Linked DNA regions of Homo sapiens: regions 1 and 3 are each linked to region 2. The links come from fine-mapping of genetic effects on gene expression. A gene starts in region 2. Each other region holds a variant in brackets. All regions are shown on one strand. Distances are between the middles of the regions. Region 1 overlaps ANKRD33B (ankyrin repeat domain 33B). Region 2 holds the start of ANKRD33B (ankyrin repeat domain 33B). Region 3 overlaps LINC02213 (long intergenic non-protein coding RNA 2213).

The links. PIP is the estimated chance that this variant, and not a neighbour inherited with it, causes the effect.
Region 1: its variant is the best candidate, but not a certain one, in a credible set for the expression of ANKRD33B in skeletal muscle (FUSION, PIP 0.85).
Region 3: its variant is the best candidate, but not a certain one, in a credible set for the expression of ANKRD33B in whole blood (TOPMed, PIP 0.88).

What each region holds. Positions count from the first base shown.
Region 1 is chr5:10,589,939-10,594,166 of GRCh38, forward strand. All of the region lies in intron 1 of ANKRD33B (ankyrin repeat domain 33B), which reads left to right. Among named protein-coding and RNA genes, the nearest start is that of ANKRD33B, 28 kb to the left of the region's middle. The variant TAA/T (reference allele first, on the strand shown) is at 2,512.
Region 2 is chr5:10,562,424-10,566,651 of GRCh38, forward strand. It overlaps ANKRD33B (ankyrin repeat domain 33B), which reads left to right and starts at 1,647. Exons shown (of 4, transcript NM_001164440.2): 1 at 1,647-2,410. The coding sequence starts at 2,045. RefSeq lists silencers at 1,231-2,090, 2,431-2,480, 3,451-3,500 and enhancers at 1,710-2,604, 2,605-3,498, 2,621-2,830, 3,151-3,200, 3,221-3,310 and 1 more.
Region 3 is chr5:10,508,804-10,513,031 of GRCh38, forward strand. All of the region lies in intron 1 of LINC02213 (long intergenic non-protein coding RNA 2213), which reads right to left. Among named protein-coding and RNA genes, the nearest start is that of LINC02212, 8.2 kb to the left of the region's middle. The variant T/C (reference allele first, on the strand shown) is at 1,825.

The sequences.
Region 1 (4,228 bases), 28 kb after region 2:
TATCTTTTAAATCTTTTTTTTTTTTAATTTTCTGGGCATTTTTGATTAAACTTATCTTTTGATTCACTAATCATATCTTTACCCTAATCTACTATTTAATTGCTTTTTACATTCTTAATTTCAATTATGCTGTATTTCTAAAATTTTTGATTCTTTATTGATTCTAGTTCTGTAATAAAGTTCCTCATTTGTCATTATTTGCTTTTACATATTAGTTATTTTAAAGCTTGATCGTTCTAATTTCTGGATCTTCTGGGGATGTTTTCTATTTTCTGTTTTTCTCTTGGCCCTGTCTCCTGATACATCTGGTAATTTTTGGAATGCTAGACATTGTGTATGAAAATTGAAGTAGCACTAGATTGTGTTATCTTGTCCAGGGAGGATTTAGTTTGCTTCTGGCAGACAGAGTGGGACAGAAGATTGCAGTCTAGGTTGTAGTTTTTATAAGATCTGGCCTCTTTCTGGCCTGTCTTGTAGGATATAGCCCTTTTGGCTTCCTATAGAAATATGGCCTGGGCAGATCATGAATACCACTTTTGTCTCCTTAACCCAAGCTTATCCAACCCCTGGCCTGCGGGCCACATGAGGCCCAGGATGACTTTGAATGCAGCCCAACACAAATTTGTAGACTTTCTTAAAATATTTTGAGATGCGCGCGCGCGCGCGCGCGTGTGTGTGTGTGTGTGTGTTTTCAGCCAGTGTTAGTGTTAGTATATTTTATGTGTGGCCCAAGACAATTCTTCTTCCATTGAGGTCCAGGGAAGCCAAAAGATTGGATACCCCTCCCTGCAAACCCTCGAGAGTATGACCAACTCTGCTTAGCTCCTCCTACCCTTCACTACTGCTCTCTGCTTGGTTTCTCAGCACCCAGCCTTACTCAGCAAATGCCCTTAGGGAAAGCCATGAGAATGGAAGCTTATCTCAGGATTTCCGCCTTCTTTCTGGAATACAATCAGGCCTGCAAGTCCTGGTCGTCTTGGAAACTGGATGCCTCCAAATGGATATTTAGGGAAAAAAAGTATTCAGTTGTTCTCAGGGGAAAAGTGCCTCTGATTGAAGCCAGTTTCTCAGAGCTGAAAGTGAGAGTCCCTGTCATTTGCCTTTTTACTTTCTTTACACTGTTTTGCTGAGAAGGTTTAAATTTTTATACAGTCAGATGTATCTATTTCTTTATGGTTTCCGGCCTTGCTCTATTGCTTCAAAATGCTGTTTCTAAGCCAGGTTTATAGAAATAGTCATCTACATTTTTTTTAGTGGTTTTTTTTTTTTTTTGAGATGGAGTCTCATTCGGTTGCCCAGGCTGGAGTGCAGTGGCACCATGTGGGCTCCCTGCAACCTCCCCCTCCCAGTTTCAAGCAATTCTCCTGCCTCAGCCTCCTGAGTAGCTGGGACAACAGGTGCGTGCCACCATGCCTGGCTAATTTTTTTTGTACTTTTGGTAGAGACAGGATTTCACCATATTGGCCAGGCTAGTCTCGAACGCCTGACCTCTTGATCTGCCACCCTTGGCCTCCCAGAGTGCTGTCCCGCACCGAGCCTTTTTAGTGTTTTTATGATTGAATATTTAATGATTCATTTCAGCCTGAGATGTGAGATAAAGATCCAACCTTATTTTTTTTCCGTATGACTGGGACTTTTGTCCAGAACTATTAATGAATTCATCTTTTGTGAAGATCTGAAATGTAATATTTATTGTTAAGCATATGGTGTCTCATTAATATTTTAATTTACATTATTTTGCTTACTAGTAAGATTATGTATATTTTACATGTATTTACTGGCTTTTTGCTATTTTTTGGTTTTTCTACTCATTCCTTTACCCTTGAAAAATTGTACTCTTGGTGTATTTATGCTGATATTCAATATAATATTTCTGTTTAAATCATTCTGTGAATGTCACTAATCTTGATTGCTTTTTCATTTTTCTTTCAATTTTACTTATAATTTTGATATAAGGGAATATTGTATTTATATAGTAACTTACATTGTATATTTATTGTTATCTTATTATTTTTAGCTTTTGAATCTCTTTTCTCCATCAGTAAACTATTTTAGGATATAAGTATGTATGTATGTATGTATATATATTATACCCTTGACTTTTTAGTCCTTTTGTATTATCTTTTGATTTTATGGTGTGTGTGTGTGTGTGTGTGTGTGTTTACTGCTCAGTAATCAACTTTTCCAGCAATGTTGGTTGAGTCATCCATCACTGCCCAGATTGCTCCTTTAACACATGTTCCCCTTTAAAGACAGGGTCTTATTTTGGGCCATCTGCTTTATTTTCTTCTCACCAATTTGTGGGAAAACTTTATTCTTGTTAGTATTCTACTTTCCTTGTCTCTTATTTTTGTTAAACAGAGCATATATGTGATAGAAAATAGAATCCTGGCTGGGCGCGGTGGCGCCCATGCCTGTAATCCCAGCACTTTGGGAGGCCAGGGCGGGCGGATCACCTGAGGTCAGGAGTTTAAGACTAGCCTGGCCAACATGGTGAAACCCCATCTCTAC[TAA/T]AAAAAAAAAAAAAAAAAAAAAAAAATTAGGTGGACGTGGTGGCGGCTGTAATCCCAGCTACTTGGAAGGCTGAGCATGAGAATCGCTTGAACCCGGGAGGTGGAGGTTGCAATGAGCTGAGCTGAGATTGCACCACTGCACTCCAGCCTGGGCAACAGAGTGAGACTCTGTCAAAAAAAAAAAAAGAAGAAGAAAAAGAAAAGAAAATAGAATCCTGCAGATGAGCTTGCAGTGAGAGACCCCAGGCTTCTTGGCCACCTGTCTGCTCCTCAGAGCTGTCTCTTGCCACTGTTCCCACTTTCATTTCATCTGGCAGTCCCCTCCCTGCCAGTTGCAACCTGCTCATCATAGCTACTCTTGGTTTGTCCATTTGAGGCAGTGGAGATGATTGTGTGCAATGGTAGTGGAGTTTTTTGCTGACTTGCCCTTTTCACCCCTCTGATCAGACCCATCCACCCATCCTTTTTCATATGTATTCTTTTAGTTTCTTATATATGTTATTTCAACCCCAGTTCCTTCTCCATCAATTCTAGCTGGTATTTCCTGACTTCTCCTCTGTTAGGTAAGGACCTTCCTAACCTTTTCCCACCACCCCGTATCCACCCCTCATATTGTCTTCGCTAGCTTTCCACTTACGAGACTAGTAACATTTTCTTGGATCTTAATTATGCTTATTATTTCAACTTTATCTATAGTTTGATTCTAAAAGTAGAAAACAACTAACCCTTATATTATAACACTACAGCTATTATTAGTTGAGTCAACTGGCATAATAGGACTCTCTTTTTTTCTGTGCAGTAACATATTTTAAATTATTATCGCAGATAATATATTTTGCTCTGTTTACTTTTTTTTAAAGCATTAGCTATTAACTCTTTTAAGAAAAAACAAAATAAAGCAAAAACCTGTACCATCAATGAATGTACGACCCCATCTGCAATGACAGAATACTTTCCTCCCCTTTAGACACTGGATATTTGAGTGGGGAGCTTCTCAAAGGGGTCATCTACACATTTGTTGTATGACATTTACTTTTTAGTGCCTTAACTTGCCTTGTACTGTACCTCACCTCTGTCTCAGTCGACACCCTACCCTGCTCATCCCAACCCCACCCTGGGTCAACCTCCTGTTCACCATGACTCCAGCCCAACTCCTCCAACCCTAGCTCACCTCCAGAGCTCTGAGTCTTCACCTCTCCAGCCTCTCTCCAACCTCTTCTCCTCCCGGGCAGGGGGGCTAACATCAGACCCCGACTCAATGACCCACTCACTCCCCAACCCCTCACCCTGGCTCAACTTCCCTGACCCTGGCTCACCTGGATCCCCATTCCAGCACAACCCCCACCCCTCTCAACTCACTTACCCTCACCCCCTCATGAACCCTCTGCCATTTAAGGATAGTTCATCTCCTTTTCTGCTGCAAGACTACTCTTGGCTGTTGAGCTACAGTTTTTTCAGACCCAAGGCCTGTGCTGTCTCTGAGCCGAATTCTGGTCCCGTGGCAAGGCAGAACCTGTCCCAGAGTCTCTGCAGTGAGCAAAGCCTAGAGACTCAACAGCGAGGAGTAACCACATGTGGGAGCTGTCAGCTCACGGGGATTTTCTCTCCTCTCCAAGGGCAGGAATTCTCTTCATTGTCACAGACCTATTCCTTATTTAAAGCTTTTTTTCACTCTTATTCAGGGAGGGATGTTTAAAGAGATCATGTATTTATTG
Region 2 (4,228 bases):
ACCTGGGCCTTGGTGACCCGCAGCCGGGACTCTTGCTGTAAAGTGACGCAGTGCTCTCCCTGGGAGGACAGTGGGTCCAGCAAACCCAACTCAGCCCTCAGGGGGCACTTGAAATTGTAACTACCCCAGGCCTTTGGAAACAACCCTCAACCTTGAAAGGGGAAATTCCCAGTGGGAATTGATGCAAACTGTGGTCAGTTACACAAAAAGGTAGAGTTTACTGTAATCTGGGGGCTATTTTTGGTTGCAGAAAGAATCCCCGGAGTAGAGAAGGAGGCCAGCGAGTCTCAGTTCGCTGCTCGCTCAGAGCCGCCCAGGTGCGAGGGCGTCTTCACCAGAAATCGGTGCTCCCGCGCGCCCCACCCTCCGGGGCCCTGCAGATGCCGGGTCGGGGGCCGCCAGCAGGCCCTTTGGCTCCTGCTGGAGACACTGGAAGACCAGGCGACCAGGACAGCGGGTCGGGCCAGTGCGGTGTGACACGAGGGCTCGAGCGGCTTCGCAGTTTAAACGTGTCCTCATCCTACACCTCCCACGGCTGTTTCGGATTCGGTGCCCTCGTGCCCCTCAGCTTGCCCAGCGGCACGTGGGCCTCAAGCCTGGTCCCCAGCGGCTGCGCCAGCCTAGCTGTGTTCACCTTGGGGCCGCGAGGGCCTCCCACCGGCTGGCAGCTGGTGGACACGCTGTCAAGATCGGGGGAAAAAAAGGAAGGAAGGAGGCTAGGGGGACACAGGGCTGGTGGCCTCCGCAGTCTTTGACCTGCGACGGGCGCGAGCGCACCTCCGCGCCTTTGCGCAGAGACCTTCCCCCAAGATTGGCTCACGACGCCTCCTACCCCGAAGTCAAGGGCTCCCTGTGGCAAATCCTCACACGCCCTCCTCCTCCCCGCCCATCCCCGGCGCCAGGACTGACGGGGAGAGGGCAAGGCCGGGCCAGAGGGGCTGTGGGCCTGGACTGCGGCTGTCGCCCGCGGCCCTGCTCTTTTGGGCAGCCAGACGTGGGGTCAGCGCCCAGTCGCAGCCTCCGGGGGTGAGTCCGCAGATCCCCGCACGTGACACAGGCCAGGCATGGGGACGGGGAGTTCCTCGTCGTCCGTTCCCACTCAGATGCTCCCTGAGGTTCCGGAACACCCCGCCCCCCATCCCAGGATCTGACCAACCCTCAAGCCACGGCCGGCCCCGGTTCCGCGAGACGGGGGACTCTGAGGATTGTCCTCCCTTCCGGGCTGGGACTCCCCCACAGCAGCCGACCGCCCCCAGTTCAGAGTGGCCCGGCCCGCAGCGCTCCCCGGGCACAGGTCCCAGGTGGACGGCTCCGCTCCCGCGCCCGGCTCCTCTGCCCGCCAAGCGCCCCGGGGATTCCCCGGCCTCCAAGCGGCCGCGGCCGGGTGGAGTCAGCCCCGAAGCCCGGGATCCCCCGAAGGGAGAAAACCCGCTCTGCTCCTCTGAAGCGGCGGGAGAAACCGGCCCCACCCAGGTCCGGGGGCCCGACGCCCTCGGCGGAGGCCGGCTCCAGGGGTCCGAGGTTCCCGAAGCTGGAGGCCGGCTCCGCCCCGGCGTCCCCCCGCCGCCACCTCCGCCCCCATCCCGCGGGCCGGCGGAGGGAGGGGCGGGGCCGCTTGCCGCCCGCGACTCGGGTTCGGCTTCTTTAGTGATTGCTTCTGCTTCTCCCGCGCCAGCTGTCCCCAGCTCTGGGGCAACGCTGCCAGGTGCCCAGTCCCCGCGCTCGAGAGAGCGCCTGCCTGGCTCTGAACTCTGGCCAGGAAGGGGCGCGAGGGGAAGGCCCCGGGGGAAGGCGTGTCCCCGCGCCCCGCCCCGCCCCGCCTCGGAAAGCCCCCGCGGTCCCGCCCACCCCAGGGGCTCGCTCAGCCTCCGGAGACTTTTTTCTTTGAGCGCAGCCGCCTGGTGCCGGTTTCCGCCGAGCTGGAGCGCGCGGGCCACGGCTTCTCTGGGGACGCAGAAGCGAGAAGCGGGGACCTCGGCGCGCGCCCCGCGTCCCGCTCTTCCTGCCCGCGCCCCGGCCCCCGGCCCGCGCCCCGGCCGCCGGCATGGTGCTGCTGGCCGGGACCGGGCCGGAGGGCGGCGGGGCGCGCTGCATGACCCCACCACCGCCGTCCCCACCCCGGGGCGCGCAGGTCGAGGAGGACCCCGCTGACTACGAAGAGTTTGAGGACTTCTCGAGTCTGCCAGACACCCGCAGCATCGCCTCGGACGACTCTTTCTACCCTTTCGAGGACGAGGAGGAGCACGGCGTCGAGAGCGCGGAGAGCGTCCCGGAGGGCGTCCCGGAAAGCGTCCCGGAGACGGCGACCCTCCTGCGCGCCGCCTGCGCCAACAACGTGGGGCTGCTGCGGACGCTGGTGCGGCGCGGGGTGAGCGTCGAGGAGGCGCAGGAGACTGACCGCAACGGCAGGGTAAGCGGGCGTCCCCGCAGGATTTGAGCCCCCTCACTGCCCCCACTCCCCTCCTCCCCACCACATCCCCGCGCCTCCCAGCTCCTGGCTCCGGACCGGTCCCTCGGTCACTCAGCCGCCGCCCAGAGCGCCTTTTCCCCGCTGTTTGGGAGCGCGGTGCCCTGGGTGGCTTCCCCGTCTCAGGCTGGGGGACGCGGTGCGGGGAGGGAGCAGTCGAGGTGTCAGCGCGGCAGAAACGCCAGTCCGGCGTCCTCACCGCATCCCCTTCTCGTTTACCGGTCCCCGTGGACCTCCTGACTGAATTCGCGCTGGCTGCCCGTGCTGCAATCCAGGATGGGCTTCTTGCGGCCCGGTCCCCTCCTGACTATTACCTTTCCCCAGGTCCCTGGCAGGGGACCATTCCTCCTCCCCTGCAGGAGACAGCCCCTCCTGCCCAGCGCCCCATTTGGCCCCTGGGCCCCTCGCGCCGCCCTTGTCCTAACACGCTGGGGCGCAGATCGGCTCCTCCAGCCGCAATGATTTGGAAGCAACAGTTTCTTCCCTCGCCGGGACAGCTTGGTCCCCTACCCCACCTCCGCTGAGCTTTGTGGCCCGCGCCGCGACCAGCCAACGTGATCTCTGACTGGTCTGTCCGCAGGTCACCTTCGCGAGCCAATGCCAGCCGGGGCTCCCCAGAGTCAGGGCATAGGGAGAGCCCCAGAGCCGCGGGCATCCACCCGGGTAGGGCAGGAGGCGTGGAGGCAGGCACAGGCTATCCTTTCGTTATGACCAGATTCAGAGAAAACGAGATGTTTAGAAAAGAAAAGAAAAGAAAGGAAAAGAAAAAAAGTTGGCTTAAGAAGACCTGAGAAGGACTGGCTGGTGGAACACCTTCCACCAAGCAAAGCACTTCAAGGGAAAACTGCAGAGTGACCACGGTGGCCAAGTTCCCCGTAGTCTGTGCTCAGTGGGCAAATGGCAGCGTTCTCACCTGATTTTTGTATTGTCCAAGGACCGTGGTATCTGCAGATGCAGCCTAGCACAAATGCACATGCTTTTTGCTCAGGAGCCTGCAGCTGACAGAAAACATGTGCTTTGACTTGGGGACCCGGGTGACCTTGTGCCTTTGGTTTATCCTGCAGTGGGTGGGGCAAGTGGTTTGCCCTGACTGTGGTTTGGGCTGGGCTTAGGTGGATGGGAAGCCCTCCAATGTCACTCTCCCCTTGTACTACATTGCCCCCGTGATTCAATTACCTCCCACCGTGTCCCTCCCACAACACGTGGGAATTCAAGATGAGATTTGGGTGGGGACACAGCCAAACCATATCACACAACATTTGAACTTGGAGGAAGGGTCTGTGCTTGTCATATGTTAGGCAGTGAGACCTGAGGTGGCGTCCCCGTAGGTAGCATCACCTGGAGCCCTGTAGTTCCTGCTGCCATTCCTCTTGCAATGCCTCCTCCCCCAGCCCTGGCGACAGATGCCCTGGCTGGCATGTGATTAGGGCTTGGAGCTCCACCCGAAGTCCTAGGGCCTGTTTCTCAAGTTCTACATTTGGTTTAACTGAGTTTTCAGGCCCAGATGTGTGTAATCAGAAACCTTGCTTTCTGGAAGCCAGTATGGGGGCCCGCTTTAAAGGAAGCCTCACCAAGCTCATAAAGGAACAGGTGGGGTGGGCCTCTCCCCCTGTCCTGGGCAGCCTGGTGGTCTCCAGTGGGCTGGAATGGGCACAGGAGGGGCCTGGCTCGCCCAGTCCCCACTCTAGGGCACCACTGGGCTCAGCTTTATATAATGTTTCCTTTAGGGGCAAAACATAAATGTTTGAAAACAGCTGCATT
Region 3 (4,228 bases), 54 kb before region 2:
TCTCTCTCTCTCTCTCTCTCTCTCTCTCTCTCTCTCTTTCCCTATCAGCTGGAATTCCCCACCACACTAAGGCTCTCTTGCAACACTGGCTCTCCACCTCTACTTTCGCTATTCAGTTTTATTGTCAAACCTCGGATGAAAGAGAACCAGTGGCGGCCAGTGTTAAAGAGAAGAACTCAGCTTTCCCTGTTAACAGAGGCCCTTGTGCATCTGGTGGTCATAGCACTCCTCACATTCCTTAATTGACCCTCACCCCAGATCGCTGGAGCAGGGATGTGGCGGACATTGACTCTTTTGTCTGCTGAGGGTAATAGTCAACCTTCTTCTGGGAGATGTTCCTTCTTCCCACCATAACCACATGGCTCTAAAGAGAGCTGCCATGATCTAACAGACTCTCCCCACGTGGCCACCACTGATTGGTCAGAGCTGGGCACCTGACCCTATTGGGGCCAATTAGAGCCCTTCCCTGGGATTTCTGGGCTTGAGAGGAAGCAGCACATTCTTCCCCTGGAGGGTCCTTGCTTGTGGAAGAGCCAGGCTAGAGTAGGAGGAGTTGAATTCAGACAGAGGCGGAGATGAGCACTGGAGAGGGAGCCTGGCTTTGTCCCAGGTGTATCTGGAGGCCCAGGTATGCCCTGCACCCTTCCTCCATGATGGGAGCCTCACTAATACATAGACCACATTCCATCCTGTCTGCATACCCGACACATGGAAAAGGCTGGACACTCCCTACATCTCATGATTAGCCAGTGAATGAAACGAAAAGGGCCGAGTGATACTTCATCAGCATTGCAGTTTTTCTCACGGTCCTCTCTGTCTTTATGTTTCCATCTATGGGATGTAGTAAATCAGAACCAAACATGTTGAGCAGCATTCATTTTAACAGGCGTCTTCAAGAGACTGTCTACGTGATTAGCAAATACCATCTGCCCGCCTAATGAAATCAGAACAGCCAGTGTTTTCCATCCTCAACTCAGGGATTAAAGAGGAAAAGCCGGTGTAAGCAGGTCACCTGGGTTAGCGTAGCTGTGGAGAGGTGCGCTGAGCAGATTGCACAGCTCAGCCCCGCCCGAGTTAAGAGGAGTCAGGACACAACCCCAGATGCCAAAGGAAAAGAAAGGAAGCAAGACAGAAAGGAGAAAAAGAGAGAGACAGACAGAGAGAAAGAGAGAAAGAGAAAGAAAGAAAGAAAGAAAGAAAGAAAGAAAGAGTCTATATTTTACTTCCTGAACAGCTCATTTTATAATACATAAATAATTCAAGACAAAATAAATTGGTTAGAAAATAATAATGTTTGTCCACTCTATGGCTACGGCTATACGAGGAGCAGAAATAGGAAACCTGTGTATGTTTTGCCAAAAGAGAATCTGTTTGCTCATTTAAACTTTTTCCTTCTGATTATAAAACATACACATTCTTTTATGGATAACTTTCAAAATAAGGGAAAATACAAAGTGTGTGGGGCAGGCATCACTGAGCGTAGGGAGAGGGCGTGGTCATTCTCTGCTCACGCCCACCCCGGTGAGGGCTGTGTCTGGGTGACTGGCAGGGTTGGGGGTGCTTCTGGAACCCACTGAGGGGGCTTTTGGGAAGGGGATGCAACGGGGAAGAGAGCTTGGTTCTCAATAATCTATCAGCTTTTGGAACAGCAACGTTCGTTTCCTTAGGCTGTGTTAGTTTCCTAAAACTGTCCTTTAAAAAGTACCCCAAACTGGGTGGCTTAACATGACAGAAATTTATTCTTTCACAGTTCTGGAGGCCGGAAGTCCAAAATCAAGACGCTGGCAGGGCTGTGCTCTCTGAAGCCTCCAGAAAAGATTTCTC[T/C]TGGCTTCTTCCTAGCTTCTAGTGGTTGCCAGCAAGCATTAGCATTCCTTGGCTTGCAGCTGCATCTCTCGAATCTTCTGTTTCTCGAAATCGCTCGAATCTCTGCTTCTGTTTCCTTGTGGCGTTCTTCCCTGTGTGACTATCTCTGGGTATCTTGGATAGTCATATTGGATTAAGGGTCCATCCTGCACAACTATGACCCTGACCTAACTTAACTAATTACAGCTGAGTGTGGTGACTCACACCTGTAATCCCAGCACTTTGGGAGGCCAAGGAGGGCAGATCACTTGAGGTCGGGAGTTTGAGAGCAGCCTGGGGTCTCAAACTCCCGACTCCTGAGGTCTTTGCAGTAACTGGTACTCAAGGGAAATGCTGAAGAAAAAAGGCGGCCGGGCGCGGTGGCTCACACCTGTAATCCCAGCACTATGGGAGGCTGAGGTGGGTGGGTCACTTGAGGTCAGGAGTTCGAGACATGCCTGGCCAACATGGTGAAACCCCATCTCTACTAAAAATACAAAAATTAGCCAGGCATGGTGGCATGTGCCTATAATCCCAACTACTCAGGAAGCTGAGGCAGGAGAATCGCTTGAACCCAAGAGGTGGAGTTTTCAGTGAGCAAAGATGGCGCCACTGCACTCTAGCCTGGGTGATAGAGCAAGACTCTGTCTCAGTAATAATAATGATAATTTAACTAATTACATGCACCACGATCTTCTTTTCAAATAAGTTCATAGTCTGAAGTTCCAGGAAAGACATGAGTTCTTGGGACACAATTTCAGTCCATGCAGCCTCTCTTACCCACACAAACCTCCCTGGCACTGTGGAGTGGAGGGCAGCATGGCCCCATCACGGAGAAAGTCTCCTCCGGGTGGTGGGGAGTGTTCTGCTGAGACCCTACCAGGCTCTGCGGAAGCCAGGGCAGATCCACAGTGGCAGTGGCCTCCGCCGGAACATTTGGCCATTGCTGTTCTAGAATACCACAGGAAGTTCTGGCCTTGGCTCCAGAGGCAACAGGCCTCAGGGGCCCACCCTGTGAGCCCCAAAAAGCAGTCTAGGTCCTAGGGGGTGGTTCCAGTGGGCCACCAGAGGCAGTGGCTTCGGTGGGGCTGTGTTCTCGATCTTTTAGAAGCCCTCACAGCACTGTGCACTCCCTTCACAATACCGACAACAATTCCAAGGAATAAATAACCATGAAGTTAGTTCTTTAGTGTCTGTCTCAGCAATAGGATGACCAGCTGTCTGCTAAGTGGGGCCACCAACTTGTCTAGTTTGTGCTAGGCCAGATTTGCTTCAGCACCGAAAGTACCACATCCCAGAAACCCCCTCAATTCCCAGCAAACCAGGACAGCTGGTCACCCTCCTTAGCAGACAGATGGGAATCTCATGTGCAGAGCCACGGTGTCTATCTAATCCACTCTATCTCCTGTGTTCCTGTTTGTCAATGGTACCTTGCACAGAACATGCATCCAATAAATATTTGCTGAACAACAATCATAATAATGATTATCTGCAATGCTCAGTAAATATTTGCCAAATGAATGCCCCCTGCCAGTAAATAAAGAATTCTCTTCAGCATTTTAATATGTTACCGATAAATGACACCAACTGGATTTACAGACTCATCCAGGAAGCAAAGAGATTTTTGTCCAAGTAGAAAATGCCAAGTAGGGTAAGTTTAGCAGCATTCAATCCTCTAACAAAAGATCAGCAAATGTCCTAGAGAGGTTGGGTCTGATTTCCTGAATCCGTCTTTAAGTGGAGATTATGGATTTCCAGATCCTCTCAGATAGGAGGGGCCAAAGCAGGAGGGACAACTGCTGGACAGCCGTAGCGGTGGGAACGAGAGCTTGCATTGCACATCCCAACACAGCAGTCTCACAAACCTTCCCTTGGATGGGATACACTAGACTGTAGACATGGAGGGATGGTGTGCTTCTCTGTTTTTTTGAAAATGAGTCTCACTCTGTTGCCCAGGCTGGAGTGCAGTGGCGCAATCTCAGCTCACTGCAACCTCCACCTCCCAGGTTCAAGCTAGTCTCTTGCCTCAGCCTCCCAAGTTGCTGGAATTACAGGCATGTGCCACCATGCCTGGCTAACTTTTGTATTTTTAGTAGAGATGGGGGTTTCACCACGTTGGCCAGGTTGGTCTCGAACTCCTGGCCTCCAGTGATCTGCCCGCCTCAGCCTCCCAAAGTGTTGGGATTACAGGCGTGAGCCCCTGTGCCCAGCCTGATGTGCTTTCCTTGCCTTGCCTTTCCTCTTTCTTTCTTTCCCTCCCTCCCTCCCTCCCTCCCTTCTTTCTTTTCTTTCTTTCTTTCTTTCTTTCTTTCTTTCTTTCTTTCTTTCTTTCTTTCTTTTCTTTCTTTTTCTCTCTCTCTCTCTTTCTCTCTCTCTCTCTTTTGAG